Regions from separate parts of the Homo sapiens genome. Here all the other regions are linked to region 3. Evidence: fine-mapped expression QTL. A gene starts in region 3. Each other region holds a variant in brackets. All regions are shown on one strand. Distances are between the middles of the regions.

Evidence for each region. PIP is the estimated chance that this variant, and not a neighbour inherited with it, causes the effect. A credible set is the group of variants that fine-mapping cannot tell apart.
Region 1: its variant is the best candidate, but not a certain one, in a credible set for the expression of C20orf203 in whole blood (TOPMed, PIP 0.81).
Region 2: its variant is the best candidate, but not a certain one, in a credible set for the expression of C20orf203 in prefrontal cortex (CommonMind, PIP 0.60).

Annotation. Positions count from the first base shown.
Region 1 is chr20:32,628,869-32,639,640 of GRCh38, reverse strand. It overlaps C20orf203 (chromosome 20 open reading frame 203), which reads left to right. Exons shown (of 6, transcript NM_182584.4): 6 at 5,371-8,016. Among named protein-coding and RNA genes, the nearest start is that of C20orf203, 40 kb to the left of the region's middle. RefSeq lists an enhancer at 181-680 and a silencer at 934-1,121. The variant C/G (reference allele first, on the strand shown) is at 2,374.
Region 2 is chr20:32,641,741-32,652,512 of GRCh38, reverse strand. It overlaps C20orf203 (chromosome 20 open reading frame 203), which reads left to right. Exons shown (of 6, transcript NM_182584.4): 2 at 532-780; 3 at 1,347-1,495; 4 at 1,632-3,258. The coding sequence starts at 1,361. The coding sequence ends at 2,081. Among named protein-coding and RNA genes, the nearest start is that of C20orf203, 27 kb to the left of the region's middle. RefSeq lists enhancers at 3,854-4,354, 4,355-4,855. The variant A/CA (reference allele first, on the strand shown) is at 7,748.
Region 3 is chr20:32,668,020-32,678,791 of GRCh38, reverse strand. C20orf203 (chromosome 20 open reading frame 203) reads left to right here and starts at 4,851. Exons shown (of 6, transcript NM_182584.4): 1 at 4,851-5,160. RefSeq lists enhancers at 1-170, 2,530-3,232, 4,084-4,153, 6,104-6,603.

The DNA of each region.
Region 1 (10,772 bases), 39 kb after region 3:
TTTTTTTTTTTTTACTATTTAAAAAAATATTGTTACAGGGTCTTGCTATGTTGCCCAGGCTGGCCTCAAACTCCTGTGCTCAAGCGATCCTCCAGCCCTCACCTCTTGAGTAGCTGGGACTACAGGCCAACACCACCATGCTCCTCATAATGACACTTATGAACCCCATATTACAGATGAGGAAACTGAGGCTCAGGGAGGTGCAGTGATTTGCAGGGTGGAACTGGGGTTCGTTTCCAGGTTGGCCTGGTTGGAAGCCCATGTTCTGCCCACTTCTTGGCCTTCCAAGGAGGGGCAGCTTTGAAAGGTGTTGGTACTGTCCAACTGAGACTGTTACTGTTTCCCAGACTTGGGTAGAGGGAGAAACATCCAAAGGAAGAAGTCACTGTTCCCATATCTCAAAGAGCAAGGATTGTTTTCAGCTGAGCCTGCTGTGTGCTGAGCCCTTTGCTGGACTGTGGAACACTGTGGGTGGTGTCTGCTGTCAGGGACTACACAGGCTCGTGGCGGAGAGCCAGGCCAGCCAGGGGAGCCAGGGCTCTGCATCCTGGGTAGGGGCTAGAGGCACAGGCTCTGGAGCCAGATAGTTGGGGCTTGTACCCTCCCTCTGCTGGTGGCTTGGGCAGCTACCTCGCTGCCTGAACTCTGTTTCCCTGTTGGAACTTGTTGGGTGTAAGAATTAAGTAAGTCAGAGCATCTTGAGTTGCACACCGCAGCTCCTGACACAGAATATACACTTGGTATCACCAGGTGAGTCAGGCCGACATTGCCGGGAGCGCAGGAGGAGGGGCCTGGGACAGGGGATGCTGCCCGCCCCCCCTTTCTGCTTCTCTCCAGGGCCAGTGCATGGCAGCCAGCCCATGTGGAGGCCTGGAGACAGGTGGTCCACGGCTTCTGTGGCCATTTTTCAGGAGAGAAGAGGAAGCAAGGACAGCTTTGCTGAGAAGTTGGCCTCCATCTCCCCAGTCAGACCCGGTCCCTCCTGTCCTCCAGTTTTGTGCAGCTGTTTTGCATTCAAGCACAGCTCCTGCCTGGCTCTGGGTCTCTGTCCTCTTCCCTTTGGTTACCCTCACCTCTTCCAGGGTGGCCACCAAGTGGGACCTCAGACTCCTCTGGTGTCCTGGACCTGCTGTAAATCTCAGCAGACCACCTCTGTGACCCTGGGCAAGTGACTTCACCTCACTGATCCTCCTTCCTCTTCTGCAAATGGAGTCTCCAGCACCAGGGTTAGCAGCACCCTCCAGAGTCTGACTGTGACCCCCACTTTCTTGCTGTGGTCCCCTGAGCAAGTCACTTAGGCTCCCCAGCCTCATCTGCAAAATGGGGACAATTACATGTCAGAGATTTGAGAATTAACTGAGAAAACATACATGAAGCACACAGAACAGTGCTTGGGACATAGCAAGTGTTCAATATATGTTGGCCATGGTTATTACAGTCCAGGCTTTCTTTTAAGGCTGTTGCAAAGAGCTCAGGGTCCTGCCCCAGAGAACCCACCCCCAAATGCCAGGTCCTTGGCTTCACATACAACCAGGCATGATGGCTCTTTGAGTCCTCACCCTGGCCTCTGCCCCTCCTGCCATCAGATTGGGCACTCTGCTTTGTATACACACACACACACACACAAGCACACATGCAAACAACAAGTACACAATGCACACACACGCACAGACACATGGGCGCACACACACGCCCATACATGCACCTGCACACACACAAACACAGGCACACACACAGGCACATGCACACACACCTACACCCACACACATGCATGCATGCACACACAGTGACGCAGAGGGCACTGATGTCTGTTGAACAAATTAAACAAAAGACCAAATGTGTGAGAAGGCCAGGAGGCTCCATCTTTTGCAGGAAAGCAAGGATTCATTCATTCAATGAATTCTTACTGAACACCTATTATTCTAAGCATCAGAAATACCTCAGTGATCAAAACAGATAAAAACCCCTGCCCATGTGGAGCTGACACTGTAGTCCAAGAGACGGACCCTAGTGAAAGTGAACAAATGACATGGAGAATGTCAGTCAGTGATACATGCTAGGGAAGCCTGTAAAGTGGGGGTGGGGAGTGGGGAGGCTATCATCTGAGATGGCAGTCAGGGAAGGCCTCATGGAGGAGGTGACATCTGAGCAGATTTGAAGGAGGCAAGATTACTGTTTCGTTGTCTACTCATTCGTTTCTTTTTCTTTCTTTCTTTCTTTTTATTTTGAGACAGTCTTGCTCTATCACCCAGGTTGGAGTGCAGCAGTGGCGTGATCTTGGCTCCCTGCAACCTCCTCTTCCTGGGTTCAAGCGGTTCTCCTGCCTCAGCCTCCCCAGTAACTGAGACTATAGGCGCCTGCCACCACGCCCAG[C/G]TAATTTTTGTATTTTTAGTAGAGATGGGGTTTCACCATGTTGGTCAGGCTGGTCTCAAGCTCCTGACCTCAGGAGATCCACTTGCCTTGCCCTTCTCCTAAAGTGCTGGGATTACAGGCGTGAGCCATTGCACCCAGCCCTGTGCTGGTTCATTTCTTCTTTCCTCTAGGCAGTGAGCCAGCGTCAGCAAGCCTGTCCTTGGGCCTCTTCTGTGGCCTGGCCTTGGCAGGGTTGGGGAGGTAGAGAGCAGCCCAGCCCCTGCCCCTGGTGACTCTCAGGCTGCTGTCTCCCGGCAGTGGGAGTGTGAACATGTCCTGCCCACCCAGTGAGAGTCAACAGAAGCCAGGGTGACCAGTCCTCTTGGTTTGCCCAGGCCTGAGGGGTTCCAGGACACTGGACTTTCATTGCTAAAACTGGGCAGTCCTGGGCAGACCAGGATGAATGGGTCACTCCAACAGAGGCTGCCCTTGGTGCCAAGGGGCAGAGGAAATATCAGGGAAGTCCTCCACTTCTCTGAGGATGTCAGGTTTGCAAGGGACATGGAAGAGATATATGCCCTCCCTGGGTGAGCGGGGAGGACAGAGGTTCCATGGCCCAAGTCCAGCAGCACATGGGGGGCGCAGGTGGGTGTGAGGACGAGGCTGTCTTCCAGGGCTCAGTGAGCGATGAGGCAGGAAGGGATGACAGGGGCCTTGCGTGTCTGCAGAGGGGCTGTGCTGACTGTTGGCAGCCAGCCTCCAAGTAGGTGGGCAGCTCCTCTGTGTTAGCATTTTAGAAAGGCCAGCGCTTTGCTGTGCAAGGTTATCCACTGGGGCCAAAGGCAGAGGGGAGCAGCGCCGTGTCCTTGCTCTCCCTTTCGTTGATTCCAGCAGGCGTTAAGCACCTTCCAAATCCCCAGCCCTGGCCAAGTGTTCAGATGTCTGCACTAGTTCAGCAAGACAAAGAGAGAGAGAAAAAGCAAATTGTGGCAAATCTAAGCGAAGGGTGTTCATTATACCATTATCTTTGGTTTGGACATTTTCGAAATAAGATATTGGAGGCGGGAAACAAATAGAAATAAATCCTGGGCCCTATAAAGCCCCTGGGGAAGAAAGAGGTAAGGCAGGTCCTTCCCCCAGCAGCTCACCATCCAGGCAAGTATCTGGGCATGCACACCCGTTGTTCAGTGGCAAGGGTGCTCGGTGTGCATGACCTCCCCAGTGGAAGGACCCTGAGGGGGGCCTGGGGGCTGGGGGAACTGTGCCAGATGGAGAGAGAAAGCAGAGGGCATTCAGACAGGAACGGCAGGAGTCAGAGCACGTGGGCTCACTGTACACGGGATGGGAGGACGACACGTCATTCCGGGTGGCTCCCTGGGGGTTTTTGCTGGGCTGGGAGGCATGGCTCAGGAGGATGCTGGAAAGAGAAGTTGTGGCCTCATGGAGTTGCCTCCTAGAATCTGTCTCTGAAAATGAAAATGTGAGACTGGCCCACCATTACAAAATCAGAGAACACAGGAATGTTTATTTTAGACAGGGTCTTGCTCTGTCACCTAGGCAAGCGATCCTCCCACCTCAGCCTCCCGAGTAGCTGGGACTACAGGCACACACCACCATGCCCAGCTAATTTTTGTATTTTGTAGAGACAAGGTATCCTCATGTCCAGGCTGGTCTTGAACTCCTGGGCTCAAGCAATCCCCCCACCTCAGCCTCCCAAAGTGCTGGGGTTACAGGCATGAGCCATGGTGCCCAGCCGAGGAAATGATTATTATTATTTATTTATTTTTCTTTCTGAGATGGAATCTCACTCTGTCACTCAGGCTGGAGTGCAGTGGTGCGATCTTGGCCTTCTGCAACCTCCATCTCCCGGGTTCAAGCAATTCTGCCTCAGCCTCCCGAGTAGCTGGGATTACAGGCATGTGCCACCATGCCTGGCTAATTTTTGTATTTTTTAGTAGAGATGGGGTTTCACCATGTTAGTCGGGCTGCTCTTGAACTCCTGACCTCATGATCTGCCTGCCTCGGCCTCCCAAAGTGTTGGGATTACAGGCATGAGCCACCGTGTCTGGCCCATTTTTATTTATTTATTTATTTTGAGACACGGTCTCACTCTATTCCCCAGACTGGAGTGCAGTGGCACAATCTTGTCTCACTGCAACCTCCGCCTCCCAGGTGATTCTCCTGCCTCAGCCTCCTGAGTAGCTGGGATTACAGGCATGCACCACCATGCCCGGCTAATTTTTGTATTTTTGGTAGAGACAGAGTTTTGCCACATGGGCCAGGCTGGTCTCAAATTCCTGGCCTCAAGTGATCCGCCCACCTTGGCCTCCCAAAGTGTTGGGATTACATGTGTGAGAGACCGCGTCTGGCTGAAATTATTTTTAAAAAGGAACTACAACCCCCAGGTTAGTCCATCACCAGAGATAACCACTGTGAAGCATTTGACACATTTCTTCCTAATATCATTTCATATATATATATATATGCATATGTAGGTCTCCTAATAAAAAATAGTTTGCCTCTTGCTGTCTTTTACCTACAGTTACATCAGATGCATTGTCTGGTGCCTTTAAGTAGTCTCTGAAATCTGACTCCTCAGCCTTTTGGATGACTCCAGCCGGTGGTGGCCCTTTGACAAGTGTGGCCCCTTCTCGTGGCTGGGCACAGAGGCTGTTTCACTCGTTTTCTGTGATAAAAACACCGCAGTAAACATCCTCCGTCCTGCGTAACTTCATGTCCACATTGCTGATTGTTTTGTTGTGTTTTTTTCTGATAAATTTCTGGACATGAAATTCTCGGAAGCCCTGCTGGGCCCGGAGCTGGCTAGGTACTCGGGAGGGTGCTGGGCTTCCTAGAGCCACGCGTCCACACCTGAGGACAGCTTGGACCCAGCTGTAAGGAACAACGTGCACTTCTTGAATGTCTCACGCTGTCTTCCACCGCTTTGTCCATGATGTCACAGTACCTCTCGCCTCCCCTCCCAATGCCTGTCTTGCTAATTCTTTCTTATCTTTCCAGACTCCAGCATAACCTTCTCCAGGAAGCTTTTCCAGAGCCCCCAGGCTAGGAACCTCCCCCCAACCCCTGAACTCAAGCCCCAGCAGCCCGTGCCTGCGCCATCTCCATCAGAGCTGCATCTCTCTGGGTCTCTGGGTAACAAGTGCCATTTCTTTGTTGTTTTCTGTGTCCCCCAAGGACAAAGCTCAGGCTGGATTCATCTCGGAATTCCCAACACCGGGGTAGAACTGGCTCATTTCAATTTCAGTCAATGTTTGTTGAGGAAAGGAGTGAAGAGTTGGACACATGAATGAACGCATGAAACAGTCCGGAGTGGGGAAGCTGAAGCTCAGGCATCAGGATCCGGGAGAAGCATCCAGTCCAGGCGGACGGGGTGGAAGGTTCAGAGCAGGGGCCCCAAGTCAGGAGTAGGGAGGCAGACGGCAAGACCTCCTTCCATGAAAGGAGGCTGGGACCAGGGGACCAGGTAGTGCAACGCGGTGAGGGGGCTGTCAGGGCGACTGGCCGGAGGAGTCAGAGGCAGGAGGCACCACCAGGTTACAGACAAGGACCTTCTACAAGAGGGAAACGTGTCATGGGCTCTGGAGCCCCTGTCCAGGTTCAAATTGTGACCCTGTGCCAGGGACAGCTTCTTTGTGCCTCAGTTTTTCCCATAAAATGAGGATAATAATACTTCATTCATGCCTTTTTTTCCCCTCAACAAACATTTGTTGTATGTCTGCTGTGGGCCCAGGACAGGAGGCTGAGAAGGAGCTGACCACAGTGGTCACACAGCCAAGCCCTGCTGCTGAGATCTGACCCCAGTTCGCCTGTCACAAGTTCTATCTGTGCCTCGTTGTCTGCCTCCTGGGGCTGTTATGAGGGCTGAAGAAGGGGCAGGCACAGAGGAGACACTTACTATATGATCATTGTCCTCCTAGAGTATCATCACCATCAGGTGGACTTCAGTGGCCATCCCAGGCCTCCACGGATCAACCACAAGATCTTGGAGAATGTCCTTACCCTCCAAGCCTCAGTTTACCTTTAGGGTGACCAACCATCCTGGTTTGTCCAAAACTGAGGGTTTTCCTGGCACAGTCCCAGGCAAACTGGGATGGTGAGTCACTGATATAGTTTGACTCTGTGTCCCCACCAAATCTCACCTTGAATTTTAATAATCCCTAGGTGTCAAGAGCAGGACCAAGTAGAGATAATTGAATAATGGTGGCAGTTTCCCCCATGCTGTTCTCATGATAGTGAGTGAGTTCTCACGAGATCTGATGGTTTTATAAGCAGCTTCCCCCTTTGCTCAGTATCACTCTCCCTCCTGCCGCCCTGTGAAGAGCTGCCTTCCACCATGATTGTAAGTTTCCTGAGGCCTCCCCAGCCACGCAGAACTGTGAGTCAATTAAACCTCTTTTCTTTATAAATTACCCCAGTCTCGGGCATTTCTTCACAGCAGCGTGAGAACAGACTAATCCCGTCACCCTGGTTTCCTCATCTCTAACACAGGGACCACCTGCCTCCCAGGGCTGTTGTGCAGAACAGAAATAAGCCTATGGAAAAGGCAGAAAACCATGGAGCCAGAATTCTAGATCTGGTTACATGAATACTAAAGACTTTTGCATGCCATGGAATTCTAGGCATGAAAAAGAACGAGGCGGTCCCGTGTACTGCTGTGGAAGAAGCTCTGAGATACATGTTTTTTTTGTGAAAAAGGCCAGATACAGCGCACTTTGTGGGGAGCGCTTCTGTTAGTACCAAGGAGGGGGCAGGAACACACGTGCATGTGCTCCAGTGCGCACATGGGTTCTCCCGGGCGGGGACTGGGGGCTGAGGAGAAAAGACTTGTTTTTCACTGTACATCCCTTTGCTTTGTTTGAATTATTTTACCCCTTTGTTTTCAGTAGCTGGCCGAAAAACTTCCCAAGCTTCCATGTGTCAAAAAGAACTCACTGAACGAGATTTAAAGGCCAAAGTTAGGGAGTAGGAAATGTGTCTAGCTCAGGGCCCAGCATCTAAGGAGTGCTCCATGAAAGGCCTTCTCCCCTCTCCCACTCCTGACCTTGCTGACTGCTGGGAGTGCAGGGGCACAGACGGGCTGTTGCCTCCCCCAGTGCGGTATTTGTGAGGCTCAAATGCAAGCCCAGGCTGGGGAGACTGCTCTGGGTTCCACGCGGCATCCTGCCTAAGCCCTGGGGGTCCTAGAGGTCACTGGCTCCCTTCTCTGCCTGCATGTCTCAGGTCGCCCTCTGGCCAATTCTGAAGTCCTGCCCTGCCTCAAGGAGCAGAGGTGGCAGAGGTGGGCCCACCGCACAGGGTAAATGTCCCGGTGTCACATACCTCCAGATTGCAGGGACCTGCGTATGCTACTGCTGCTGTGGAAACCAGCTCTCTCTGGCTCTGGCCTTGGGGAGAGGGAGCCACAGTGGATTTAGGAAGAGTCTCCAGATGTAGCTTGAGACTACCAAACAGGCCTGACCCCCACAGACCCTGCCTCTTATGAGCGCCCAGACTGAGCCCTGCTTCAGGCTCCCAGCCATGTGGCCAGCTGCTTTTCTTCTTTAATTTTTAGCATCAGACGAATATTTCAGGAAAATATTCTCATTGTAAAATCTCAAACATTAATAAAATGTAGTGAATAAAAGGCCATGTAATTCCTCTTTACCTCCTGAGCCCCATTCTGTTTAAACCATTGTTGTCAGCTGGTCAGTGTATATACCTATACCTATGCCATGCCTATACCAATACCTATACCAATATCTGTAACTATACCTATGCCACTACCTATGCCTGTGTCGTGCCTGTACCAACACCTATACCTAGACTATCTATATTTATATCTGTTTAGATGTGCATATTGTGTTTAGGTATGCGTCTCACGTGAGTAGTAACATTCTGTATGTTTTGTTCTGCAAGATGCTTTCTTTTTCTTTTTCTTTTTTTCTTTTTTTTTTTTTTTTTTTTTTTTTAGATAGAGACTCATTCTGTTGCCCAGGCTGGAGTGCAGTGGCTCAATCTTGGCTCACTGCAACCCCTGCCTCCCAGGTTCAAGCGATTCTCATGCCTCAGCCTCCCAAGTCGCTGGGATTACAGGTGCACACCACCACACCCAGCTAATTTTTGTATTTTTAGTAGAGGCGGGGTTTCACCATGTTGGCCAGGCTGGTCATGAACTCCTGAGCTCAAATGATCCTTCTGCCTTGGCCTCCCAAAGTGCTGGGATTACAGGTGTGAGCCACCGCACCCGGGCTATTTTTTTTTCCCCTCCCTCCCTTCCTCCCTTCCTTCCTCCCTTCCTTCCTTCCTTTCCTCTTTTCTTTTTTTCAAACAGGGTCTCACTCTGTTCCCCAGGCTGGAGTGCAGTGGTGTGATCTCGGCTCACTGCACCCTTGCTTTCCCAGGCCCAAGTAATCTTTTTACCACAGCCTCCAGGTAGCTGGGACTACAGGCACACACCACCAGGCCTGGCTAATTTTTGTATTTTTTTTTTTTTGTAGAGATGGGGGGTCTCACCGTGTTGTCCAGGCTGGCCTCAAACTCCTGGGCTCAAGTGATCTGCCCGTCTCGGCCTCCCAAAGTGCTGGGATTACAGGCGTGAGCCACCGCGCCCGGCCAATGCCTTCTTTTTCACTGAACAACGTGTCATGGACATTTCTGAGTCAGTGCATACAGACCTGCCTCCTCCTCCGTGCTGTGCAGTGTTCTGTGTGTGAGCTGGTCCATCCTTTATTTGCCCTCTGGCCTATAAATGGACATTTCCATTATTTCACTCCCACACACAGCCCTGAACAGGCCTCACTGTGCACTCCAGCAGTTTCTCCAAGATAGGTACCCAGCTGAACCCCTGGCACTACTGAAGAGGACGGGTACCAAATTTGTGATCGGTATTATATAAAAACTTGCCTTCTGGGAAGTCCAAACTAAGCTCTCCTTACTCTTGGACTTCCAATCACTCTGTTGGGTTGGCTTTTAAAGCTGGGCCAAGGAGAACTTTTCAACCATCTTGGCTTGCCCTGTTGGTGGGTGGGAGACAGGGTCCCCGGCCTGGGGCAATTTCAGGGAGAAGGGGAAGAACTCCCCCAGTCCCCAAATTTCTCTCCCATCTAAATGCCCCCCGACCTGAAAATGGAGATAATAATAGACCTTCCCTCACAGAGTCTTTCTGGGGACGCTGTGAAAAACAGCCAGGATGGAGATCTGGTGCAGAGGGACAAGGACAATAACAGTCGTAGTGCGACGTCCGGAAGCCTCGCCACGCCGCCCGGAAGCTTCGCCACGCTCCAGGCACTCTTTGAAGGCCCCACCACCATCTTCTCCCTTATGGTGCCTGGCACCCACCATTGTGGTCACTTGCACTAATGCGAGTCCTACCAGTGGCTGGTGCTGGTTCTCACATGCTCCTCTGCATCACACCTGATCCACATCACTCTAACCCAGTGGCCTGTGAGTTCCCATGGCTGACATTAGCTGCAGGGCTGGCCCAGAGCTCTCTTCCAAATTTGCATTCAGAATCCTTCCCCAAAATACCCAATTAAAACCCCAGATGCTGTGTGGACAGCTGGATCCAAAAAGAGCTCTGGGATCAGTGGGACTTACTTACCCAGTCTCAGCTACTCCAAGATCTGGGAAACAGTGGGTTCTTTGGGCCTGGGCCAGGCCAGAGCCTCAGTTTCCCCATCTGTAAGATAGAGGTGGTTGCAGTCAGACTGGATAATTCCAAAGTGCAGTTTTGTTTGTCTCAGACCTCCTGCCCCACCCTCTCCAGCTTATATTCTCAGAAAACATGGTGCTAAAAGGAATGGCCCCGTCTTGGCTCCTATTAGCCTCTGTCTCAGGAGGACAGGGGAGCCCAGGACCAGGGAATCAGTCGGAAGTTCAAGTTCTACTCCTGACTTCAAGTTCTACTCTCCGCCTTCTAGCTGCAGCCCCAGGTGATGTTTGCAAAGGCCCCTGTAACTTAGTGGGTGCTTAGTCATGGTCCCTCCCCTTTCCATGCCTGGGCAGATCTCTGAGCCTCACTTCTCTGAGCCTCAGTTTCCTCACCTCTGCAATGGCTGTGCCTCCCTGCCTGGCCCAGTGCCAGGGCTGTTTGAAGCTAGCAGAGGATGCTGGATGGAAAGAGCTTTTCAGGTAGAAAACCGTGTGCTGTTGGGAAGATTTATTGCTGGGACTGAAAGTGGGAGGTCCAAAGGCCATTGAGGCTGAGACAGTCCCTACCCAGAAGGCTGTGCCAGGGACCAGGCTGCTCTCCCTCCACCCGCACTAGCTGAGCAGAAGGCCTTCTCCCCGAGGCCCTAATGTCTGGTGGTGAGCAGGGGCCGGGCTCTCTTTCAACAGATATTTACCCTTTTATTTTAGAGTGTCTGTCCCCCAAGCAGGGCCCTGGTCAGCGGCTCGATGACCAAGGTCTGGGGAGGGGC
Region 2 (10,772 bases), 26 kb after region 3:
CCATGACCCCCAGGGCTGATTTTATCGTTCAAATAAAATCAAAACCTTTGCCTTGCAAATTGAGCTCCAAGACACAGCAGCATCTCCCCGCCATCCCAAGAGTCTCACCCCAGCCCCTTTGCATGGAGGGCTGCTGGGCCCCCTCTGATGCCAGGGGTATTTGCTTTTTTTTTTTTTTTTTTTTTTTTTTGAGATGGAGTCTTGCTCTGTCGCCCAGGCTGAAGTGCATGATCTCAGCTCACTGGCACGATCTCAGTTCACTGTAACCTCTGCCCCACCAGGTTCAAGTGATTCTCGTGCCTCAGTCTCCCAAGTAGTTGGTACTACAGGCGTGCACCACCACACCCAGCTAATTTTTGTATTTTTAGTAGAGACGAGGTTTTGTTGTGTTGGCCAGGCTGGTCTCGAACTCCTGATCTCAAGTGATCCTCCTGCCTAAGCCTCCCAAAGTGACAGGTGTGAGCCACTGCATCCAGCCACATTTGCTTTGCATTCTAGTTATTTGTATGTGTGTTTTCTCTCTCCTTCCAGACTGGGGTCCCCTTAAAGGCAGAGTGAATCTCAGATTCATCTTAGTCCCTTCCTGGGGTCTTGTTCAGGACCCTGCATCCAGTAGATGCTCAACAAATGTCAACATAGGAATCCAGGTCCCATCCTCTCCTCACTCAAGGGATCCAAGGCTGCCTCTTCCTCTTCCGTAGTGGTGTGGCTTTGCAGAAGTCACTTAAGCTCTCTAATCCTCCTCCTCAGAGTGCCAGACTGCAGCTGCCACATGAAGAGGTAAGACTCGGACAGGCTAGGTGCCAGGTCACCCCCCAGTTCCCCAGACCTTTCAGATGGCAGTGGCTGGCTATTCAGGTCAGACCAGTTGCTGTGCTGGACACTTCACCTTTGTTATCTCCTCCAGTCTTCTCAGAGACCCTTTGAGGTGGGCTCTGTTGCCATCCCCAGCCTTGCAAATGGGGAAACCCAGGCATGTGACAATGAGCTCCCTTGCCTGAGGTCACGTTGGTTGGTAAAGGTGTCTGAGCCTACAGCCCTGCTTTGAAGTGACTTGGGGCAGGGATGAGCAGCTTCAGGGGGTTTTCTTGTCCACCCTGTAAGAATCTTCAAGGCTCAGAGATCATTTGCTCCAATTTTCTCGTTTCTTTTCCTTTTTTTTTTTGAATAGGGTTTCGCTCTGTTGCCCACTTTGGAGTGTAGTGGGGCGATCATGGCTCACTACGGCCTCAACCTTCTGGGCTGAAGTGATCCTCCCACTTGAGTAGCTACCCCATGAGTAGCTGAACCCTCAGGCGCAAGCCAACACACCCAGCTAATTTTTTTTTTTTTTTTTTTTTTTTTAGAGAGAGGGTCTCCTATGTTTCCTAGGCCTGTCTTGAACTCCCGGGCTCAAGCGATTCTCCTGCCTCAGCCTCCCAACATGCTGGATCACAGGCAGTGGCCACCTCGCCTGGCCAGTTTTCCCTTTACAAAAACTGGAATGCTGAGCCGGGTAAGAAGTGCTGTCCCTGTCTCCCACACCTGGGCTGACACTGGGGACTGTTGGGAAATTAGGGAAGACCTAAAGCCCCTTGCGAGTCTCAGGTACTAAGATTCTATGATCTTCTTGGGGGCCTTGTTCCCAACAGGCCACATCAGTCTTGGCTGGACTCACTGCCCACCTCTGGGACCTTGGCGGTGGGGCGGGAAGGAGGACCTCAAAGGCTCAGCGAGTCCACCCCCAGCCCAGCCACCAGCGCCAGCCTCCTCCTCCGCAACACCCAGGCCCTTATCAGGAAAGGATTTGGGTTGGTGGGGAGGGGTGGGGGGAAGTTGGAGGCCTCAGGCTCAGCAAGGTGGGTCGGAGAGATAGGGAAGTGGGGAGGGGGCTGCGGGCCCCTGCTGGGCGGGGGAGGGCAATGGGAGGGATGCCCAGAATGGGCACGGTGGGGGACTTTGGCCAAGCTCTGTCCTCGCTGGCCTGGACCTCAACATGTTTCCAGGACTTCTGCCTCCCATCCTTGCCAGGCAAGTTGCCTGCACCTTTAATTAGCAAGCAGCAGTTTCTCTCCAATTCATCACGGTCGCTGTTTAATTAGCCGAGCCCAGGGCGCCCCCACCCCCAGCTCTGCCTGCCTGTCCTACCAAGGCCACCACCACCTCAGGGTGTCCCCTGTTACCACCCCCCACAATCATTCTGCTCCCCAGAGTGGGGGATGGGCCCGGCACGCCCAGCTGAAACCTCAAGGAGATTCTGGGCACCGGCGCTTGTATTCAAGGCATTCAGCAAACATGATTAGGGACCGAGGCTGTGCCAGGCTGGCTCTGGGTAGAACCCCGGCCGGACATGCGGGGCAGGCTCTGGTCCTGTCCAGCTGCTGGAGAATGGCTTCTCCCTTGGGAGGCGCTGGCACATCTCTCTGGCTTGGTCCCTGAGTGCTGGGAGGAGGCTGCAGTACTCCTGTGTGTCACTCCCACCCCACATCCGGAAAGGGACACCATGTCTTCCTCTTCCTCTCTCTTCCAGAGCCCAGAAAGCTCCTCTGAGAATGCTGGACCTCAGGACAGGGGCCCATGCTCTGCACCCGGCCCTCAGCAGCCAGATCCTAGAGGCCCAGTCCAAGCTGTGGGCCAAGGGAGCGGGGCGGGCTGAGGCCTGCTTTGTGTCGGCAGGGTCTGGGGAATTGGGAGCACTGGCGGGAGCCCATGGTCCGGGGCCGAACCAGCCCCCTTCTGTTTCCCTGAAGAAGGGTGAGGCTGAGGGCCCTCGGAACAGAGCCCCTGTGTCATTCTGTGCAGGGCCGGGATAGCCACTAGTCACTGTGGGCAGAAGCAAGAAGCAGAGGCTCAGGCTCCATCCCAAGCCTGTGCTCCTGCTGGGCTGTGGGAGGTGTGACCCTTCCACTGTTTCGTAGACTGAGAACATGGAGGGACTGGCATTTGCTGTGTTACCCTGTGGTGCCATCAGCGTGTTGTGACAGGGGCAGGAGGAGTGTGCTAGAACCCACCCACTCTGGTACTGCCCATCTCTGTGGCCTTGGGCCAGCCACCAAACCGTACCATGCCTTAGTTCCCCTATGATTCATAGCTGCTTCATGGGCTGATGTGAGGATTAAACAGCTTACTATGTGTTGGGTCTGGTTTTGTTTGGCTTTGTTTTGTTTTTTGAGACAAGGTCTCACTCTGCTGCTCAGGCTGGAGTGCAGTGGTGCAATCACAGCTCACAGCAGGCTCCACCTCTCAGGCTCAAGCGATCCTCCCATCTCAGCCTCCCTGGTAGGTGGGACTATAGGCACATGCCCCCATACCTGGCTAATTTTAAATTTTTTGTAGAGATAGGGTCTCACTATGTTGCCCAGGCTGGGGCTTACAGTGTTTAAAGCACTTAGGAACACTGTCTGGCAGGAGTCCTTGATAGTCATTGGCTGTTTTTGCCATTCTTTCCTCTCCTTTATCCAATCAGCACTCCTTGCCAGGTATGAGGAAATTGATGTCAGTGGGAGAGGCAACCTCCCTGCTTTTCAGAGTTTGCCTCCTCATGGGGGAGGCAGCTGAGAACAAATGAGTAAGGAAGAACACAGTTTCACCGGAGTAAAGCCTGCGGCTCATCAGTGTAATGTACCAATGTCACTTTCTTGGTTTTGACCACTTACCATGGTTAGGTAATAGGTTGACATAAGAAAAAACTTGGTGAAGGGCCAATAGGAACTCCCTGTACTATCTGTGCAATTTTTCTGTTGCAAAATAATTTCTAAGTTATTCCCTAAAGAAAGTTTATTGGCCCAGCGCAGTGGCTCACACCTGTAATCCCAGCGCTTTGAGAGGCCGAGGCAGGCGGATCACGAGGTCAGGAGATCAAGACCATCCTGGCTAACATGGTGAAACCCTGTCTCTACTAAAAACACACACACAAAAAAAAAAAATTAGCCAGATTTGGCAGCAGGCGCCTGTAGTCCCAGCTACTCGGGAGGCTGAGGCAGAAGAATGGCGTGAACCTGGGAGGCGGAGCTTGCAGTGAGCCACCGTCACACTACTGTACTCCAGCCTGGGCGACAGAGCGAGACTCTGTCTCAAAAAAAAAAAAAAAAAAAAAAAAAAAAAAGACAGTTTCAGGCAATGGTTAGTGCCATGAAGCAAACAATCAGGGGCAAGAGACAGAGAGAATAGGGATTGGGGCATTTCGGGAGGGGTGGTCCAGGAGAGCCTCTGAGGGAGGCAAAGCTGAGCAGAACCTGAATGATGGGAAGGGCAGGGAAGGAGGAGGGAATGGGGAGTGCAAAGGCCTGGAGGCAGGATGGGCTTAGGCTGTTTGAGGAAGCTGGGGAGCCTGGGCTCCAGATCCCACACCCCTGGCCACTGCACTGGACTGGGAGAAAGGACCCCAACTCTGGAGTCAGCTAGACCCGGGTGTGATACCCACTGCTGCCTCACTGTGTGGCCTTGGGCAAGTAGCCCAAGTAGCAGATCTCTGTTACCTGGATCTGCTGCCAGGGATGGAGGAAGAAAGCCTGCTCCTCAGAGGGCACAGAGGGTGAGAGAAGTGGGTAGGGGTTAGCTTGCCTAGGGTGCTGTAGGTGCCATCAATGGATTGGGGAGATACTATGAGGGACCTGACACCCTCTGAGCCTGGAAGGGTGGGGGAAGGCGACGCCCCCTGCCGTGGGTGGTGAGGCTGGGGAAGGAGCTGGGACCAACACTCCTGCACTCCAGGCTATGCACCTGACCCTGAGCAATTCCCCGACCCGTGGTAGTTTCACCCTTTCAACTCCGGGTGGGGAACTGTATCTGGCGCTTTCCACACATTAGTTCTCCATTTTACTTTTTTAGACATAGGGTCTTGCTCTGTCACCCAGGCTGGAGTGCAGTGGCATAATCTTGACTCACTACAGCCTCAATCTCCTGGGCTCAAGCAATCCTCTCACCTCAGCCTCCTGAGTAGTCGGGACTACAGGCGTGTGCTAAAATACCCAGCTAATTTTTTTAATATATTGTAGCAACAGGGTCTTACTATGTTGCCCAGGCTGGTTTGGAACTCCTGGCCTCAAGTGATCCTCCCACCTTAGCCTCCCAAAGTGCTGGGATTACAGGCATGAGCCACCAAGCCAAACCCTAGTTCTTCTTTTTTTTTTTTTTTTGAGACGGAGTTTCACTCTTGTCTCCCAGGCTGGAGTGCAATGGCAGGATCTCGGCTCACTGCAACCTCCGCCTCCCAGGTTCAAGCAGTTCTCCTGCCACAGCCTCCCCAGTAGATGGGATTATAGGCACACGTCACCACGCCTGGCTAATTTTTGTATTTTTAGTAGAGATGGGGTTTCACCATGTTGGCCAGACGGGTCTCAAACTCCTGACCTCAGGTGATCCATCCAGCTTGGCCTCCCAAAGTGCTGGGATTACAGGTGTGAGCCACTGCGCCCGGCCCTAGTTCTTTATTTTAATCCTTATAGTTACCCTGGGGGAGGCATGAGCCTCTCCACTTATGAGTGAGACAATGGAGGACAGAGACTCACATCAAGTGTCATGTGGTGAGTGACCAGTGTGTGCTAGATGGAGAGACCCTCCTGGCCCTCAAGGCTGTGCCATGGTCTTGCTGGGAGACATGGGGTAGTTGAAAAGGGCCTGGGTGAGGCATGGGTGTAGCTGTGGAGGGATGAGCCAAGCAAGTGGTAGGAGCTGGCCTGGGCACCCAAGGCATGCATGGGGCCTCTGGCTAGCATGAGTGCATGTGTCAGGCCAGGGGAGCAGCTCTGTGCAGTCATCATGTAATCAGCTGTGGTAACAGTAATAATGCGTGACTGCAATACACAATTCTGAAGGTGGCAGACAACCTATAGGGACAAGTTAGGGCTCCCACCCTTTCCCCAACTGTTTCCCTCCCCGGAGATGACCTCTGGGGCCTATTCCTTGTGTTTCCTTCTGGAGTCAGCCTAGACAGCCCCATCTTGACCACAACAGCAGGCCATCAGTGTGGGCCTTCTAGACACCACCTGCTAGGAAGCCCTTGACACACAGTTTAATCCTCATACTAGGCCAGACGTGGTAGCTCATGCCTGTAATCCCAGCACTTTGGGAGGCCAAGGCGGGTGGATCACTTGAGGCCAGGAGTTCGAGACCAGCCTGGGCAACATGGTGAAACCCCATCTCTACTAAAAATACAAAAATTAACAAGGCGTGGTGTCATGTGCCTGTAATCCCAGCTACTCGGGAGGTTGAGGTGGGAGAATCGCTTGAACCCAGGAGGCAGAGGTTGCAGTGAGCTGAGATTGAGCCAGACTCTGTCTCAAAAAATCGAGCGAGACTCTGTCTCAACAAAAAGATCGAGCGAGACTTTGTCTCAAAAAAAAAAAAAAAAAAAAAATTGGGATCAAGCAAGACTCTGTCTCAAAAAAAAAATCCTCATACTGACCCTTACCTTAAGGCCCACTCTGTTTTAAATTGGAGAAAGCAGAGACACAGACAGGTTAAGTGACTCACCCAAGGCCACACAACTTACACAGAATTTGAAGCCAGGGACTCTCTGATAGCACTGTGTAGATGGAGAAACTGGGGTACAGAGAAGTTGAGGTGTCTACCCCAAGTGACCCAGTGAGGAAGCTGGGGAGCCCAGGCTCCAGATCTCACACTAATAGTCTAACACTTCTCCATCCTCAACACTGCTGGCCACTGTACTGGACTGGGAAAAAGGTCCCCAACTCTGGAGTGAGTCAGACCCAGGTGTGATGCCCACTGCTGCCTCACTGTGTGGCCTTGGGCAAGTAGCTGCCCCTCTGTGACCTGGATCTGCTGCCAGGGATGAAGGAAAGAAAGCCTGCCTCTCAGACAGCCTGAAGATGGGTGGTATGGTGGAAAAGCTCGGAGGGCTTGAAGATGGGCAGTGTGGTGGGAAAGCTGGGAGGGCTTGGTGCTGGCTCTCTCTCCTCTCCAATGTCTGCTTCTGCGCTGGGCAGGAGGACGTGCAGCAGTGCAGGGGAGAGGTCTCGCAGGAGAGGAGTGGCCTGCAGCCACTCAGCCAGTCTGTTTGCTGACCCAGAAATTCTGGGAAGTCCCAGTTTGGGAGAATATCCCCCCAGGGGGGCAGGGTCATCAAGGAGAGGAATAGGGGTTTTGCAGAGAGGTTTGTATGATGGGCCCCCCTCCCCTCCATACACCCCCAGCCTGAGTGCCAGGATTCTGGAAGGTCAGTGAGCCGGGCGGGATGCCAGGCAGGAGGCTGCACCTGAGGGCAGCTGGGAATGATCACAGCATTCAAAGACTTAGGCATGGCCTTTGGCTTAGCATACCCAGAAAATGGATTTCTCTACCTGTCTTCCCTGAACAGATGATCAGAGTACTAGGGGCTGAAAGAGCTCGATTCTCCAGGACATCGAGCGACAAACCCAAGTGCCAGTTTCTCCATCCACAGTGTGGGCCAGGCTGTTAGGGGCCAGATCACATTAGCCCCCCAACCAATTCCTCTTATATCTGAGGCCCTGAGAACCTGGCTTAGGAATGGGAAGGGGGCCTGGAGAGCGAGGTGTGGCACAGGGTTTGGGGCGTGTGGTGGCACTGGGGCTGGCGAGCCAAACCCAATCTTGGAGCTTGAATCCTAGCCCTGCTGCATCCCTGGACATGTTAATTTACCACCGAGAGCCTCAGTTTCCCCCATCTGTGAAGAGGGATTATTATCAGAATTGAGATCTCACCATACAGGTACACGATGCATGACACATCACTGGTGCTCAATAAATGTCAGTCTCCTCCCTTGACTAGCTGATCAAGCTCATTTTCC[A/CA]AACCTCGCAGGGCCTAGGGAAGAATTTTGGCCCTTGTCCTGTGTTCAAGAGGCCACTCTCTGGGAGATGTAATCTGGTTGCTGGATGTTAGATTTGCTGAGATGTTTACAGGGAGATGTGAGGGGCTACTTGAATGGGGCACTTTCCCAATTAATTAGGCTCAGGGTCACAGGGCCTCCCCTGCAGGTGCCCCCAGGGGACTCCTGATCCTTGACATCTCCCTTGCCTGAGGCTGGGCTGGCTCAACCCATAGGGCTTCTTTTTGGCAACTCCTTTTTCTTTTGTGTTTTGTTTTGTTTTGGTTTGTTTTGGTTTTAGAGATGGAGTCTCGCTCTGTCGCCCAGGCTGGAGTGCAGTGGTACGATCTCAGCTCACTGCAATCTTTTCCTCCAGGGTTCAAGCAATTCTCCTGCCTCAGCCTCCCGAGTAGCTGGGACTACAGGTGTACGCCACCACACCTGGCTTATTTTTTGTATTTTAGTAGAGACAGGGTTTCACCGTGTTGCCCAGGCTGGTCTTGAACCCCTGAGCTCAGGCAATCCACCCGCCTCGGCCTCCCAAAGTGCTAGGATTACAGGCGTAAGCCACGGTGCCTGGCTACAACTCCTTTTTCTAGAAGGCTCCTCGCAGACGCCACCTTCTGTCCTGACAACCTTCTGGGTATTCTGTCTGGTTTGGGGTAGCCAGAGGCAGCTGTGCGGGGTAGAAAGGGACCTGGGCCAGTCCTGGCTGGGCAGTCGTGGGCGTGGGGTATCCCTGGTGTGGCCTTCCCACTCTGACCCTCTCTGATCCCTGTGGCAGGGCTGAGAGTGCCCCACAGGGCCATGATGCTTTCATGGTGGTGAGTGTGAAAGGGTTTTAAAAACAGAAAGGCACTTCTCCTAGGTGATGATGATGATTTTTAGCAAATCTTCCCATCTTTTCTGTGATTCACGGAAGCTGCAAGATAGAAATGACCTTGACCATCATTGTTTTCTAGGAGGATGTTAAATCGACCTTGGGCAGAAAAGGGTGTTCATCGTCAAATAAATTTGAGAAACAACGCAAACATCCACAGAGCTCTTCACTGCAGGGTTTCGCAGAAACTTTCGTGTGTGTGTGTGTGTGTGTGTGTGTGTGTGTGTGTGTGTGTGTGTGTGGTTCCAGGAAGCGGCTGGGTCTACACTAGCACCCAGGCCTATGTGACAATGGTGCCCTTTTTTATTTTCCTAGAGCATCCCGTGAGTTAGAAGTCCATGGGATCCACTTTGGGAAATGCCAGAATAGTCTAACACTTTCCCGTCCTCCACACAGCCCAGCTGGATGAATCCGGGGGAATATGGGAGAATCTGGGGTTCAAAGAAGTTAAATGAATTCAGGAGATGCTCTGGGCTTTATTTTAAGGCTGAGATTTTAACTGGCATTTTACCTCTATTAACCCATTTAATCTTCACAGCCACCCTATAAAGTAAGCATGACTGTCATCTCTGTCTTCCAAAGGATAAACTGAGGCACAGAGAGGCCAAGTGCCTGCCCAAGGTTCACAGCTGGTAAAAGACAGAGTAGGACACTGATCCCAGGCTGCCTGAGTCAGAGGCTGCCCTGGCACCCCCTCCCAGCCTGTCTTTACCACACAGGTTCTTGGAGCTGCCTCCACCAGCAGCCACATTCTCACAGCACTGGGCCGAGGTGCACCTTCATGCGGCGGCTGGTCTCAGGAGAGTCTGTGACTCCATTTCACAAGGGGACAGGCTCTGAGTACAGGGTCTGGGGATGCCCTGTGGGTGAGCCCTCCTGCCCACTGTCTGTAGCCTCCCACCGGCAGCCTGGCCCCACCAAGACACAGCCTTAGGGTCTCATTTCGTTCTCACTCTGGTTGTCTCCATTCTACAGGTGAGGCTGTGAGTGAACTGAGGCTCAGAGATGGAGAGTAACTTGTCCATGGTTACACAGCAAGGAGATGGTAGGGCTGGGATTCAAACCCAGGTAGTCAGAATCCAGAGCTGGGTGTTCAAGATGCAGGCGCCCTTGGTGATGAAGCAGTGAGTTTCTGGGGCCAGAGGCTGGCAGGGACACACCCCACCAGTTCCCTGCCCGCCTCTGACCAGCTGCCCCCCTTACAAGCCCCTAGACAGATAGGCTTATGGGTTCCCTGCTAATCTCCCTGGCCTCTCCTTCCCAGCCTCAGACAGGCCAATAGTCAGTCACGTAAAAACAGGCCAGATAGATTACTGCCACCAAGGACACAAGAGGCAGTTGCCTGGTGGCCTCTCGCCGCGCCAAAAGTGTTATCTCTACCTCCTGGAGCTGGGCCTCAGCAGTTTCTTCCTCCTGGGGTGTGGACTTCTTGGTCTGTGTGTTTTTTCTTCCCCTTTGGCTTACTCGTTCCTAGAGATATACTTGTCTGTCTGTCCATCCATAGACATTCACTGGACACTTGTGGGCCAGGCCCCAGCAGGACTTACTCTTCCACCTGCTCAGAGCAGGGCCAAGTCTGCAGGGGGCTTCAAGATGTCCCTGGCGGTGGGGCATATGCCATGGGGGTGTGTGCAGTGTCCACCATTTGATAGTAAAGCAAGGGCCAGACCTGGCTCTAAATGCTACTTCCAACAACTTAATAATAAAGACACAAATAACCCAATTTTGGTTGGGCACAGTGGCTCACACCTGTAATCCCAGCACTTTGGGAGGCCAAGGCAGGAGGATTGCTTGAGTCCAGGAGTTTGAGACTAGCCTGGGTAACATGGAGAGAACCCGTCTCTACAAAAAATACAAAAATTAGGCGTGGTGGTGTGTGCCTGGTGCCTGTAGTCCCAACTACTCAAGAGGCTGAGGTGGAAGGATCACTTGAGCCTGGGAGGTGGAGGTTGCACTGAGCCGAGATCGTGTCACTGCACTCCTGCCTGGGCAACAGAGTGAGACTCTGTCTCAAAAAAACAAAAACAAAAACAGAAACAGAACAAAAACAAATAACTCAATTTTAAAAATGGCGATACGATCTAAACATATATTTCTCCAAAAAAGATGTATAAATGGCCAATCAGC
Region 3 (10,772 bases):
TGGCCAGGCTGGTCTCGAACCCCTGACCTCAGGGGATCCGCCCACCTTGGCCTCTCAAAGTGCTGGGATTATAGGCATGAGCCACCATGCCCGGCCACTTCTATTTATTGTTTTTGAGACCGAGTTTCACTCTTTTTGCCCAGGCTGGAGTACAATGGCGCCATCTCGGCTCACCGCAACCTCTGCCTCCCAGGTTCAAGCAATTCTCATGCCTCAGCCTCCTGAGTAGCTGGGATTACAGGCACGTGCCACCACGCCCTGCTAATTTTTGTATTTTTAGTAGAGATGGGGTTTCACTGTGTTGGCCAGGTTGGTCTTGAACTCCTGACCTCAGGTAATCTGCCTGCCTCAGCCTCCCAAAGTGCTGGGATTACAGGCATGAGCCACCGCGCCCAGCCACTTCTCTCTTTCTTTCTTTCTTTCTTTTTTCTTTTTTTTTAAATAGAGACAGTCACTATTGAGACTGTTGCTCAGGCTGGCCTTGAACTCCTGGGCTCAAGTGATCCTCCCACCTCGGCCTCCCAAAGTGCTGGGATTACAGGTGTGAGCCACTGCACCCAGCCTGTGCTGCACTTCTCTATGCATATGTCTCACCGTCTGGATGGCAAATTCCTGGACTTCTGGGCTTCCAGAATTCTGATGCACCCCACAGCTGACACTGGCTGACATTGCTGGAAGGACATGTTAACAGTCTTAGAAGGGTGTGGAGGGGAGGCAGGGCTCCTCCCTCTGCACTACTCTGTGCTTTCTCCTCTACCTCTGGTTTCTCCTCAGAAGAGTGAGGAGCTGTGGTCATTTCACAAACCCTGTAACACTGGGAGAGGTGGAATGTGACTCAGACTGCCCAGGGAAAGAGGGGCTGCCAACCACGCCCTTCCTCTTTCCTTCGCACCTGCACGTCCTGAGCCAGTGGTTTGTGCTCCTCTGTGAGAGCTGATAAACTGGCCTATGGGGAGGCCCAGAGCCATTCCCCATCGCACCTCCCCAAGTGGGGCTTTCTAAAAGATCCCGAACCTAGGAGGTGCTTGATAAGTGATTGCTTGATACATGCTTATGAGGTGGGGTTTGCTTCTCCCAGGCACTGACAAGGTAGATAGTGCTGACAAGTAATAGCCTCTGAATTGCCAAAGGCGATGTCAAGCTTTCGCCATTAAGGTTTGAGCTAGAGGGGTACAAATTAGAGGTGAAACCAATGTGGGGAGCTGAGAGTCAGAGCTCTTTGGGGGCACACAGTGCTCTCAGCACTGCTGAGAACTCACATTTCTGCACGGACTCTTAGCAGTGAGGGCCAGAAAATGCAGTGGGCCTGAATGAGATGCACGTGCTGCAAGACCAACTCTGCTGGTTCAGTTAACACTCAGGGAGCCATGTGGTCAAGGGCAGCATCGGGGCCTACATCCTGGAGATACCAAGATCCAATTAAGCAAGTGTTTATTAAACACCTACAATACACCCGGCCCTGGGCCTCTGAGATGGAGATGATGCCGTCTCTGCCCTGGGTAACCCCGGGTGGACACATGACAGACACTAGGTGATTAAGAACCATTTGAGGCCGGGCGCGGTGGCTTATGCCTCTAATCCAAGCACTTTGGGAGGCCGAGGCAGGTGGATCACTTGAGGTCAGGAGTTCGAGACCAGCCTGGCCAACATGGTGAAACCCCGTCTCTACTAAAAATACAAAAAATTAGCTGGGCATGGTGGTGGGCACCTGTAAATCCCAGCTACTCAGGAGGCTGAGGTAGGAAAATCGCTTGAACCCAGGAGGCGGAAGTTGCAGTCAGCCAAGATTATGCCATTGCACTCCAGTCTGGGCGACAAGAGCGAAACTTCGTCTCAAAACCAACAAAAAAAACGGGTTCCTTTGTTCCACTGCGAAGAAGAGCAGTGCAGGCATCCCATGCTCAGATGGGAAGGCCTGGTTCCTGGGGTGGGTGGCACTTAGGAAGCGAGCATCTAACTAGTTGCAGGGCCATGTGCAAGTCACCAGTTTCCATGCCTCGGTTTCCCCACCTATCATACAGTCCTGCATGATCCAGCCTCTGTTTCTCCTCTTGCCTCGTGTCTGGCCAGCCGCTCCATGCCTGCACTCCCTCTGCTGCTCCGGCCTCCAGTGGCCTCCCAGGCTAACACCTCCTCATTTGTCACATCTCAGCTCAAGCATCATCTCTAGGAGGCCTTCCCTGGCCACCTGGCTCTGCATCCTCTCACACCCCATCATGCCTTATGACACTTGACATCACGTGCAACCGTGTATTTATCTGTTGCTCTTTTTAGTGGCTTTCTCTTCTTGGCCCAAAGCCTGGCACTGAATAAATATTTGTTGAATGAATGAATAAACTAATGAATGAACAAATGAGCAGGTGTGCTGTGGGACTCAGATGACCCCACAGCTGGGACTCAGTGCCCTGGGAGTGGAGGGACACAATGTGTTCCTAAGCCCATGGGCCAGAGTCAGGGAATCCCACATAGAAACTGGCTTCCCCTGGGCTTCCAGAGGCTGCCAGGGAGCATCACTGCCTTAGGCCTCCCGCCCGGAACAAGAACAGGCCTTCCTGGAGCCACTATTGTGGTCAGCATTGTTGTGGTCCTTGCTGCCCTCGCAGCTGTGCTCCCTGGAATTCCCAGGTGGCTGTGTGTGTGTGTGTGTGTGTGTGTGTGTGTGTGTGTTAGTGGGGTGGGCGTGGGGGAAACCTGGAGCCCTGACCCTGAGGCCACCTGCCTCAGTGGGTTGGACAGGGAGGCTTCTTGAAGATTGACCCCCAACCTGAGTCTCCCCAGCGGAAGGGGAATTCGGCTGGTGGGGAAGGTGGGGGAATGGGCGTGGCGTATTCTAGGCTTAGGGATCCCAGGGCTGCGGGAGGACAGCCAAAGCTGGAGCGCCAGTCGTGCAGGCCAGAGCTGATGGGGCTTTGCCTACCATGCCAGGTGCTGCTTCTGGAGGGTGGGGCAGGGGGAAGGATTTGAAATGAGGTAGCAACAGCACAATCAGAATTGTGTTGTTCAAAGGCCTTCCTGTCACGGGGAGAGGATAGGCCACCACAGGTTCTTTCCTATCTCCCTCTTTCCCCTCCAGACCTTACCCCTTCTAAAATGGAGGCATTTTGTTTGTTTTCGCTCAGAACCCAGTTCCTCATGAACTGTCATTGTAAATAGACCGGAGGCCAGAACAAAGGAAGATTTTTTAAAATTATTTTTTCCTCCTTTAAAGACTAGCTTAATGAGAACTGCTGACATGGGGTAAAGTACAGCACGCCCAAGCTGAGAGAGGTGTGGGGGTACCCTAGACTGGGAAACTGAGGCCCAGGGAGAAGCACTGCTGGGCAAGGAGCATCCCTCTACATCCCAGGTGGGGTGGGCGCTCCACACACCAGTGTGATGGGAAAAGTGGAGGTGATGAGTGTCCTCACCTGGGCACAGCCTGGCCCTCATGAGATGGAACGTGCAGGGAGCCTTTTGGGGGAGGGTTCAGGAGGAGAACTGGGTGGTTTGCCCAGGAACTCAGAAGGAGTATTCCCTAGGCGGGTGGGTAGCGTGTGGAAGGACACCTGAGGCAGACAGAAGACACAGAGACCCAAGGGAGAAGGAAGAACGGCTGGGTTTAGAGACGTGGACGTAAGTGAAAGGGCAGAGCCAAGGATGCAGCAGGACAGGAGGGAGGGGGTTAATAACACACTTGAAGCCCACGGTCCAGGTTTGATTTCATTTAACTTAGTTTACTCTGGACCCCTGAGTCTCTCTCAAATTTGAATGGCCTTTTTTTCCTTTTGAAGGGGGATTCTTTAGGAGGAAGGGCAGAGAGGGCACCAAGCAAGTAGATACTGTCTCTAATAAAAGTTTTGGTCATGGCCAGGCGCAGTGGCTCACTCCTGTAATCCCAGAACTGGGAGGCCCGAGGCAGGAGGATTGCTTGAGCCCAGGAGTTCAAGACCAGCCTAGGCAAAATGGCAAGATCCCTATCTCTACAAAAAAAAAAATAATAATACAAAAATTAGCTAGGCATGGTGATGTGCACCTAGTCCCAGCTACCTAGGAAGCTGAGGTGGGAGGATTGCTTGAGTCTGGGAGGTCGACGCTGCAGTGAGCTGTGATTGCACCACTGCACTCCAGCCGTGGTGACAGAGTGAGACTCTGTCTAAAAAAAAAAAAAGGAAGTTTCGAGGGTGAGATGAAGTAAAAGACTGGAATGTTCTTGAGACATTGGGCTAGAGATTGTCATTTGTTTTTGCTACTTAAATCCAGGTGCTCTGGGCTAACCTGATTGGGCCCCTGATGCAAAAGCGCCTCCTGGTGGGTGGTTCTGAAAACACTGAATACTTTCCTCCCCCTGCCACCCAGTAACAATATTAATAATACAAATACAGCATTTTTTTTTCCCTGCAGAACAAAATTCCTAGAAGCTGAAGGGCTGAGTTGCTGAACATGAGCATTTTACTTTTAGGCAGATTACATCAAAGTCTCTTTCCAAAAAGTTGGCACCAATTGGCACCCCATTTTTGGTGCATTTAAATATTAAACACCAAGATGAGACTGGATGGATCCCTCTCCTGAAATGTCCTGTCCATAAATGAAAGAGCTGGGGCCAAGCTCACGGTGGCTCACGCCTGTAATCCCAGCACTTTGGGAGGCCAGGGTGGGAGGATTGCTTGAGCTCAGGAGTTCAAGACTAGCCTGGGAAATATAGGGAGACCCCTGTCTCTTAAACAAACTTAAAAAAAATGGCTGGATTAAACGACAACAACAGTTTCAGGGACCCAGTCTTTTCTGAACAGTGTCTCCCCCGCTCAGCTCTCACAGATCATTGAGGTGGGCGGGGTTAGACCCATTGACAGTTGGACCTGCAGGGCCAGGTCACATAGCCAGTGGGTCTGAGCTGACTTTTCTTCCCAAGCCTGTGTGATCCCCAAAACCCTTGGCTGCCCCCACTCTGCCCCCCGCCTCCCAGCCCTTCCAGCTGCAGCCTTTTCACTCATTCCACCACCACTCAGCTCTGAGTGGCTACGCTGGCGGGCTCTCTGCTTTGCGTCGGAGACATCACAGTGAGCAAAGGCAGATATGTTTTATGTGCCCTTGAAGAATCTCCCAGACAAACGTGTCATTGCAGTCGGAGCCAAATGGCCGGGGCAGGTGGCACAGATGAATGCCGGGCAGAGGAGCCTGCAGGTGGGTGGAATGCAGCCTGTCTGTGCTGAAAGTGTGGGGTGACCCTGGGGTTTTAAGCAGGGGATGGTGACCAAAAAAGCCAGCAGAAAGACCAGTGTGTGGTTTTGAAGCTGCTGCCCTAGACTCCCTGTGCCTCATGTGTCCCTTGGAGCTCCACCTGGGTCTCTGTGCCCACGGGGCTGCGGTGAGGCTCCCCGAATGTGGGGACCGTGTGGCCGTTGAGCCCATCTCCGGCAGCTATGGCTGAGGCGCCAGCCACTTCCGCCCTGTGCTCTCTCTGTGGTTGGCTACGGGGGCTGAGACACCTCCGGCCAGTCTTGAGGGGAGCAGGAGGAGGCTGCTGGACTGTCCCCCATGGCAGCCACAGGGCCTCTTCACTCCCTCCTGCCTCTGTGGCTCCAGGGGCCCAGCTCAGCCTCTTCCTGCCGTTTGTACCAGCCCTGGGGCTCCTCAGGAGGGCGGGCTTGTCGCTTGTTCCCCCAACCCTGCAACCCCTCCACTTCCTCTCCTCACCCGCCCCAGGGTGTGAGGTGGGACACAGAGAGATGCCCAGCCCTTACTACCAAGGAGTCTTGGGTCTTGAGGGGGCTTCTTTTATGGCCACTCATTTCAGCCCCTAGATCCTGCCAGTCCCATATTCTTCACTCCCTGAGGCCTTCTGGCTCTCAAAGCCCGAGTCTAGTGCCTTCCTACCAGCCATCTTCACCAGGCCCCTCTCCTATGCTGGGTCTGTTTAGATGCAGGGGCACAGGGAGTAGGAAAAGGTCTCTGCTGCCGGAGCCCACAGCCCTGTGGGAAGACAGCAGGGCCAGGTGGCAGTCAGGGAGAGAAGCACTTTTCTGGAACTGTGTGAAATGCTGTGAGCTTGGGGGAGGCAGGGGAGGGAGTGGGGAGGGTAGAGGAGGAAGAGTCCCAGAACAAAAAGGCCTGGTGTGGTGAGAAATTCAGGAGGGAATAAAAGGGAACAAGAGCAAGAAATAGAGACAGGCACACTGTGGTTCTTGGTTTTTCCCACAAAACTAAAGCTATTTAAATTGAAGAAGTATTTTTTTTTTTTTGGAGATATTGTCTTGCTCTGTCACCCAGACTGAAGTGTAATGATGCAATCATAGCTCATTGTAACCTTGACCTTCTAGGCTCAAGCAGTCCTCCTGCCTCAGCCTCTTGAGTAGCTAGGACTACAGGCATGCGCCACCACACCCAGCTAATACATATGTATGTATGTATGTATGTATAATATATATGTAATATATTTTATGTGTGTGTATTTATTTTATTTTATTTTATTTTTTTGAGACAGAGTCTTGCATTGTCACCTGGGCTGGTGTGCAGTGGTGGGATCTCGGCTCACTGCAACCTCCATCTCCTGGGTTCAAGCGATTCTCCTGCCTCAGCCTCCCAAGTAGCTAGGATTACAGCTAGCTACTGTAATAGCTACTGGGCGCCCACCACCATGCCCAGCTAATTTTTTGTATTATTAGTAGAGATGGGGTTTCACTGTGTTGGTCAGGCTGGTCTCGAACTCCTGACCTTGTGATCCGCCTGCCTTGGCCTCCCGGAGTGCTGGGATTACAGGCGTGAGCCACTGCCCCGGCTCCTCTTAAATTTTTAAGTGCACGCTACAGTATTGTTAACTATAACCACAATGTTGTGCAGAAGACCTCCGGACATTTTTATCTGTGTGACTGAAACTCTATACCCATTGAACAGCAACTCTCTGTTCCCCACTCCCCCTCAGCCCCTGGCAACCCAACCCCCATTCTACTATTTTTTTTTTTTTTTTTTTTTTTTGGAGACAGAGTTTCACTCTTGTTGCCCAGGCTGGAGTGCAATGGCACGATCTCGGCTCACCTTAACCTCCAACTCCTGGGTTCAAGCAATTCTCCTGCCTCAGCCTCCCGAGTAGCTGGGATTATAGGTGTGCGCCACCACGCCCGGCTAATTTTGTATTTTTAGTAGAGACAGGGTTTCTCCATGTTGGTCGGGCTGGTCTCAAACTGACCTGAGGTGATTTGCCCACCTCGGCCTCCCAAAGTGCTGGGATTATAGGCGTGAGCCACTGTGCCTGGCCCATTCTACTATTTTTTCCCTTTCTTTTTTCTACTTAAAATTTTTTTGTCTTTATTTTTTTTCTTTCTTCTACTTTCTGTTTCTTCTTTGGATTCCTCATATAAATGGAATCATGCATTATTTGTCCTTCTGTGACTGGTTTGTTTCATTTAGCATAAAGTCATCAAAGTTCATCCATATGGCAGCACATGACAGGCTTTCTTTATTTTGATGGCTAAATAATATTCCAATGTGTGTACACACCATATGTTGTTTATCCATTCATCTGTGGATGGACATTTAGGTTGTTTCTACCTCTTGGCTATTGTGAATAATGATGCAATCAATATGGGAGTTCACATATCTCTTGGAGATCCTGATTTCAATTCTTTTGGAAAAATACCTGCAAGTGGGATTCCTGGATCATATGGTAGTTCTATTTTTAATTTTTTGAGAAACCTCCATACTGTTTTCTGTAGCAGCTGCACCATTTAACATTCCCACTAACCATGCACAAGGGTTCAACTTCTCCACATCCTTGCCAACACTGTTGTTTTTTTTTTTTTTTTAAATAATGGCAGTTCTAACAGGTGTAAGTTGATGGCTCATTGTGGTTTTGATTTGCATTTCTCTGGTGATCAGTGAGGTTGAGCACTTTTTCATGTTCTTGTTGACCACTTGCATGTCATCTTTGGAGGGATGCCTATTCAAGTCCTTTGCCTATTTTTTATTTTTATTTTTATTTTATTTTTATTTTTTGAGACGGAGTCTCGCCCAGGCTGGAATGCAATGGTGAGATCTTGGCTCACTGCAACCTCTGCCTCCTGGGTTCAAATGATTCTCCTGCCTCAGCCTCCTGAGTAGCTGGGATTACAGGTGCCCACCACTACACTCAGCTAATTTTCATATTTTTAGTAGAGAGAGGGTTTCACTATGTTGACCAGGCTGGTCTTAAACTCCTGACCTCGTGATCCGCCCACCTCGGCTTCCCAAAGTGCTGGGATTACAGGTGTGAACCACTGTGCGTGGCCTATTTTTATTTATTTGTTTATTTTTTATTTATTTTTATTTTTTTTGAGACGGAGTCTTTCTCTGTCACCCAGGCTGGAGTGCAGTGGCGTGATCTCGGCTCACTGCAACCTCCACCTCCCAGGTTCAAGCAATTCTCCCTGCCTCAGCCTCCCAGGTAGCTGAGATTACAGGTGCCTGCCACCACACCTGGCTAATTTTTGTATTATTTAGTAGAGACAAGGTTTCACCATGTTGGCCAAGCTGGTCTTGAACTCCCAACCTCAGGTGATCCGCCCGCCTCAGGCTCCCAAAGTGCTGGGATTACAGGCGTGAGCCACCGAGCCCGGCCTATTTATTTTTTGAAACGCAGTTTCACTGTTGTTACCCAGGCTGGAGTGCAGTGGCTCAATCTCGGCTCATTGCAACCTCCGACTCCCGGGTTCAAGCGATTCTCCTGCCTCAGCCTCCTGAGTAGCTGGGATTATGGGATTACAGGCACACGCCACCATGCCCAGCTAAGTTTTGTATTTTTTAGTAGAGACGAGGTTTCAGCACATTGGCCAGGCTGGTCTCGATCTCCTGACCTCGTGAATCCACCCTCCTCAGCCTCCCAAAATGCTGGGATTACAGGCGTAAGCAACTGTGCCCGGCCGGATATTAACTTCTTATTACATATATGGTTTGCAAATATTTTCTCCCATTCAGTAGATTGCCTTTCACTCTTGTTTCCTTTGCTGGGCAGAAGCTTTTTAGGTTGATGTAGTCCCTCTTGTCTATTTTTGCTTTTCTTGCCTGTGCTTTTGGTGCCATATTCAAGAAATTATTACTAAGGCCAGTGCTATGAAACTTTTCCCCTATATTTTCTTCTGTAAGTTTTATAGTTTCAGGTCTTAAGTCTTCGATCCATTTTGAGTTGATTTTTGTGTTGTGTAAGGAAAGGGTCCAGTTTCATTCTTTCGCATGTGGATATCCAGTTTTTCCAGCACCATTTGTCGTTTGGTTCTAAGGGCCTTCCTTGGCAGAATAACAACTTTCAGTCCTTTGCAGGTTCCCCAGAGTTTCTTTGGAAATGTTACTGGTCTGTGAAATGGATGAACTAGACTCTCATGACTTTATTATAGTGACAAATTATATTTTAAAACCCAGGATGTGTGATCAAGTACACACATGGCTCTTACGAAGGGAGCAGGTCAGCCAGAAGTGTTCCAGGAAAATTCGGGCCATAGGATCTGTGTCCTCGGAGGCATATGCCTATAGTTCTAGCTACACCTCCCAGCCTGCCTGGGAATCGGCTGTGCATACTTTGGAGTCAGGGTCTGGGCCTAGAGTCCGCCCCCAGTTAACACAAGTTCAGCACACACAAGGGCACTGAGTCCCAGAGAGGCCAAGCCCCTTGCCTGCATCACAGAGCAAGTTGGGCAGAGGCTGGGGCACCCCAGGATCTCCTGGTTCTTCAACCAGTACTGTTTTAATTGCCCCGTTACCAGCACACGACTCTCTGCATGCACTAAGGCTTCCTCCCGCTGTGGCCAAGAGTGTTTGAGAAAGAGCTTTTCCTTCTGAACTGGAAAACTTCGATTTTGTAGAGATGAGTCTTGTACCATCTTAGTGTCTCCCCCAAGCTGTGGACGTGGCACCAGCACATGGCAAGAACATGGTCAATGTCTGGATGAAGGGACAACCAGCAAATTCAGTTGAGAGGCAGCTCTGAGTAAGAGCCAGAATTAAACATTTATTCATTTATTTATTTATTTAGAGACGGAGCCTTACTCTGTCACCCAGGCTGGACTACAGTGGGGCGATCTTGGCTCACTGCAACCTCCCGAGTTCAAGCAATTCTCCTACCTCAGCCTCCCTAGTAGCTGGGATTACAGGCATTACAGGCATGCACCACCACACCCAGCTATTTTTTTAATTTATTTTTATTTTTTTATTTATTTTTTTTTGAGACAGAGTCTCACTCTGTCACCTAGGCTGGAGTGCAGTGGCTCAATCTCGGCTCACTGCAACCTCCACCTCCCGGGTTCAAGCGATTCTCCTGCCTCACCCTCCCGAGTAGCTGGGACTGCAGGCACCCGCCACCACGCCCAGCTAATTTTTGTATTTTTAGTAGAGATGGGGTTTCACCATGTTGGCCAGGCAGGTCTCAAACTCCTGACCTCAAATGATCCACCCGCCTCGGCCTCCCAAAATGCTGAGATTACAGATGTGAGCCACCGTGCCCCACCTCAGAAGTTAAAAATTTAGATTCTGCTTCCTGCTGTGCTTCAGGTTTGCTGTGTAACATTGGATAGGTCCCTTCCTATCCCTGGGGCTCAATGTTCTTGTAGGTTAATAACAGTGGCAACATCAACAATAATAGATAACAGGAGTGCCCTTGGTGTAACCACTCTTACAGACCCATTTACCCCTCCCAGTCATCCCAAGAGATACAGATGATTAATGCTCTGGTGTCCGGATGAAGACATGGAAGTCCAGAAGAATTAAGTATTTTGTGCAAGGTCACACAGCTAGTTAGAGGGGCAGCAGGGATTCACTCCAGGCGGGCTAGC